Regions from separate parts of the Homo sapiens genome. Here region 1 is linked to region 2. Evidence: fine-mapped expression QTL. Tissue or cell type: unexposed skin. Region 2 holds a variant in brackets; the other region holds the start of a gene. All regions are shown on one strand. Distances are between the middles of the regions.

What was found. PIP is the estimated chance that this variant, and not a neighbour inherited with it, causes the effect.
Region 1: it holds the start of SMIM5, and the variant in region 2 is fine-mapped to the expression of SMIM5 in unexposed skin (GTEx, PIP 0.94).

The regions. Positions count from the first base shown.
Region 1 is chr17:75,632,096-75,634,595 of GRCh38, reverse strand. It overlaps SMIM5 (small integral membrane protein 5), which reads right to left and starts at 1,162. Exons shown (of 3, transcript NM_001162995.3): 1 at 394-1,162. All of the region lies in intron 8 of RECQL5 (RecQ like helicase 5), which reads left to right. RefSeq lists enhancers at 730-1,409, 1,410-2,090.
Region 2 is chr17:76,353,365-76,355,864 of GRCh38, reverse strand. It overlaps PRPSAP1 (phosphoribosyl pyrophosphate synthetase associated protein 1), which reads left to right and starts at 1,949. Exons shown (of 10, transcript NM_002766.3): 1 at 1,949-2,331. The coding sequence starts at 2,162. RefSeq lists enhancers at 1,603-1,872, 1,119-1,983 and a silencer at 2,153-2,472. The variant A/G (reference allele first, on the strand shown) is at 1,404.

The DNA of each region.
Region 1 (2,500 bases), 720 kb after region 2:
CTGCCCTAATCCTGGGAAAAAGGGAGGCTCAGCAGGCCGGCAGCCATTCTCTCCCAAGCTGGACAGCCAAATCCCTCTTTTAAGCCCCCTGAATAAAAGAGCTGAAATGAACTTGCAGAATAAGCAGGCCCTCGGGGCCCCTCTGCTGCACAGCAGGCGGAGCAGGAGGCGCTCTGAGCAGAGCCCCCAGCCCTCCCCTAGTGCAGGGTCCCAGCAGCAGGGAGAGTGCAGGTGTGTGCAGGAGGCTGGCTGACTTCCCTGCAGGGAAGCGACCCAGCATGTCCCCGAAGACCTCTCCGTGTTTATGGTAGACTGTGGCCCTTCACCCTGGGGGCAGGGGACCCTTGCTGCTCCCTCCCTGTCCCCCCTTCTTCTGTGGCCATTGCCACTCACCTGGGAGCTCAGGTGTTGGGGGCTGAGCAGCAGTGCCCCAGCGCGGAGCCTCCACGTGCTGTCCTCGTACTTCCTTCGTGGGCGCCGCTGCTCCCCTGGGCGCCTCAGCCCAGCTCCTCTGCTGACAGCCAGCTGCTGTCTCTGCCTGGCTTTTTTGTTGTTGGTCGTCCTGGAGATCCAAGTGTCAAATTACCGTCGCGAGGGGGAGCCCGAGGAAGCCCTGCTTGGGAACTTGTCCTCCAACTTCATGTCCCGGTGCCTCACCTCTGCCCTGAGAGCGCTGCTCAGGGACAAGACAAGCTCCCTCTCTCCTCCTCCTTCCTCCTCCTCTCCCTCTCCCCGACTCCCACGCCGTGGGCTGGGCCTGGGTTGGGAGCTGAAGAAAGAAGTCGGCTCTCTGCCTTCCTGGCCAGGAGGACCCTGGGGAGGCTCCACCTGAGCCTGTGGAGGGGAGTCCTGCAGCGCTCTCAGGTCTGGGGCACCCACCCTGCCCTCAGGAAGGCCACCCCTTCTGTCCCTCTGGCCACTCCCTGGCTGGTCCCTCCCTCTGGCCTCTCTCAGGAACAACAGTAAACAGTGGGGAGCTGGTGGCCCTCTCAAGCTGAGCAGGAGGCTTTGCAACCAGTCCCTGGGGAGGCCCTTGTGCCGCTCAGCATCTGAAGGCGTCTTGGGGGAGAACTTGGAATCCTGAGTGACCTGGGAGTGGCCTGCGCGCCCGGCAAGGCGCCTCATGTTCCTTGTGAGGTGAGGGCCTTCTGCTGGGGCTGTGACCGCACTCCTGGCCCAGCTGTCAGGGCAGGGCTCCAGAGTCCAGGGGCCGGGCCCTGTGACATTTGCCTGGTTGTGCCTCCCAGCAGGCTAGGCTGTGTGGAGAGAAACCGACCCCAGCCCCGCTGTCAATGGAGCTCTTTGAGTCCGAGCACAAAACCCCAGTGAGTCAGGGCCTGAGGAGGGCAGGGGGAGGAAGCCAGCCATGTGGTCACACCACTCGGATGCCAGAGCCTCCCAGAGGCTGGACAGGCGGCCGCTGTGCGGGCGCACGGACTCCTGGGGATGAACCATTTGTTGCATTTACTCATTGGAGCAGAGTGGGGGCAGGAGCGCCCTCTGGTGGCCGCCTCGGCTGTCCCAGCCCAGGTCAGGCTTCAGAGCTGCATTCACTCAGCTAAAAGAAAGTCAGCCAGGCCCTGCTTCCTTACCGGGGTGTTGCAATCAGCCTTGCATCCTTGAGCCTGCGCCTTGGGGTCGCAGCCCCTCAAAGGGCTTCTTGCAGCCGCAGCAGTGCTCACACTGGGAGGAGTTCTAGTTAGAGCAGTTAATGCCAGCTATTCTTGTCCCTGGGATGTGGCACCCCAGACAGCCCTGCCTGTGTTCCAGCATCTCCTCTTGGGCTTCCCTACCCTGTGCCACGTTCCTGGTGGCAGGAATGGCTGTTTATAAGGAGCCTGAGAGAGCTATGGCCCCTCTTGCGGCCTCTGCAGCTGCCCCAAGGGTCGACAGCCACCCCCATGCAGAGGGAACAGAGATGCGACAGAGCCTCGTGGGCCAGCCAGAGGCTGCTCCCTGCTCCCAGCATGGGCAGAGGCCGCTCACCCCAGGAGGGCTGCAGCAGGGTTGAGACAGAGGAAGACGAGAGGAGGACTCCAGGCGAGGCTGCGTCTCCCTGGCTAAAGGCCCCACCTGTGACACCCTCACGGGTTGATGATGGGACATATTACTACACAGCCGTGCCTGCCTTAGCAATGCAAATACGTTTTGAGAAATTTAACTTGTCATTGTGCGGTCACAGAGTATACTTAGGGAAATCAAACAGCAATTCCAGGGAAGAGAAGGAAAAAAATATCAAGCGGCACAGCCTCCTACACACCCAGGCCATGCGCTACAGCTTGTTGCTCCTAGACCACAAACCTGTACATCACGTTACTGTCCTGAGTACCGTATGCAGTTGTAACACAGTGGTATTCACATATCTAAGCACACATAAGCATAGAAAAAGTACAGTAGAAATACAGTGTTAGAATCGTAGGGGACCACCATTGGCTGTGCAGTCATTCCATGGGGCATGACTGTACTGTAATGCACTTCAGACATCACCTCAGCCATCTTC
Region 2 (2,500 bases):
TGATCCGCCCGCCTCAGCCTCTCAAAGTGCTGGGATTACAGGCGTGAGCCACCGCGCCCGGCCACATCTGGCTAATTTTTTGTATTATTAGTAGAGACAGGGTTTCACCATGTTGGCCAGGCTGGTATCGAATTCCTGACCTCGTGATCCACCCACCATAGCCTCCCAAAGTGCTGGGATTACAGGCATGAGCCACCGTGCCCAGCCTAATTTTTGCATTTTTAGTAGAGACAGTGTTTTGCCACCTTGGCCAGGCTTGTCTCAAACTCCTGACCTCAGGTGATCCACCCACCTCAGCCTCCCAAAGTGCTGGGATTAAAGGAGTGAGCCACCACGCTCAGCCAACACCTGGCTAATTTTTGTATTTTTAGTACAGATTGGGTTTCGCCATGTTGCCCAGGCTGGTCTTGAACTCCTGACCTCAAACTATCATCCGCCTCGGCCTCCCAAAGTGCTGGGATTACAGGCATGAGCTACTGCACCTATCCCATTCCCCCTTTTTTTTAAGAAGGTAACAAGGTTTTTGTCAGGGTCTGTGAGCTGGACATGTGTGCAGTGGTTAAATAATTTGGCCTAGGCTGTGCACCCACTGTCCTTTTTTTTTTTTTTTTTTTTTCTAGAGAGCTATTGGAATAGGGGCCAGGCTGCTGCAGGCTCAGGGCAGCTCAACTTCCAAATCCTGTAGCTTCAGACTTGTGGTCCTTCACGACATGCTGAGTCACAATCTACTGCTCCCTCAAGCCCAATGTCACCACAAGCAGAGTCTCTAAAGGACATTCTCAGAAGATGGTACTGTCAATGTGAGAGGCACCTCTCCTCCCCTCGAGTTCTGGTGCAGCTGATAACTAGAGATCTCAAATGCTTCCCTGGGCTTTACTTTCTACTTCAACAAGTACTGATTGCGGGCCTCTGGAGCCCACACACTGCCCTATACACTGGGTAACACGGAGCACTCAGGAATACACGATCTTGGCGGGGCGTGATGGCTGAGGCCTGTAATGTCGGCATTTTGAATGACTGAGGTAGGAGGATGGCTTGAGCCCGGGAGGTAGAGGCTGCAGTGAGCCGTGATCGCGCCACTGCACTCCAGCCTGGGCGGCAGAGGGAGACCCTATTTCAAAAAATAAATAAATAATAATAAAATTAAAAAAAAAAAAAAGGAACTCACGATGTGGCCGTAAAATGGGTTACATCCTAGTTAGGAAAATAGATGTTTGCAAAGGTACATAAATATGCAAGCATCAAAACAATAACAACAACAACAAAAATTTAAAAAATGCAAGCATCTACGTGTGGCACAGTCCCGCGGGCCGGGCGGCTTACTGTGGTTGAGGTCACCAGAAAGACTGTGGAACAGACGCATCGCGAGTGGGTCTCGGAGGGGTGGCGCATATGGAAAGAGG[A/G]GAAGGAGGGCTTTTTTGATTGAAAGCGAATACCGGCAAGAGGGCCTTTGGCACGTTCAGGGAACCTTGCCTTACACGCAGACACAGGGTTGGGGATCTGTTCGGAAACGCCTGAAAGATCAGGCTCAGGAGAAGACCACTTTTTGGCCGCTTCAGTACTGCGGTCAACCAGCTGGAAAGAACCCCCGCCCTCTACTTTTCAAATTAATCTCCGGCCGGCGCACGCGCCTCGTGGGGCGGGCGCTGTGCTACCATAGACATGCAGAGCTAGATCGTATACCTCCTCGGAGGCGGACATGTTGGGTCCTGGCCAAAAAGTTGGAAACACCTGGGGCCACTACCGAGGTAGGCTGCTCCTCCCAAGAAAGTGAGACCGAAAGAGCTCCCGTGGAAGCGGTCAAAGCAGGGGCGGGGCGAACCTGTGACATGCCCCTCGGAAGAACAGGCTTTTAGAGAGTCGCCAGGCTCCCTGCCCTCATCCGAGATGGCGGCCTGAGGGCGCTCTAGCCGACGCTCTTCGGATGCCCGGAGGGGGCGGTGGCCTTGCCTCTGGCTCTGAGGCGGCGGCGCCGGGCGCTGCGAAGGCTCGGCCGCTGTAGTCAGTGGTGTGGGGTGCGCAAGGGCACGGACCTCGGAGCTCTCCCCGCTTGCGCCGAGTTTCTCAGCGCCTTCCCCACCCAAACCGGGGTCTCGCAGTCGGAAGCACTCAGAGTGCAGCCCCGCGCGGGGCCGGTCGTAACCGCGCCGCGGGCCGGACGATGCCCAAGAAGCTGCTGCTGTTGCCCCCGCCCTCCGCGTCCTCGGCTTTCCGCGTCCCGCGCGCCCGCCCCGTTCCCCCGCCGGCCATGAACGCCGCTCGCACCGGCTACCGAGTCTTCTCGGCCAACTCCACGGCCGCCTGCACGGAGCTGGCCAAGCGCATCACAGAGTAAGGGGGCGGTGGGAGGGCCGGGCCGGGGGCGGCGGCGCCTAGCTCTCCTTCGCGCCCGGAGGGACCCGCTCCCCTCCACCCGCCCCACCTCCTGCACCTGGGGCGGGAGGCGCGGGCCTTCCCAGCCGGACAAAGCTTGGAGGTGACGGATACCGCCCCCCGCTCC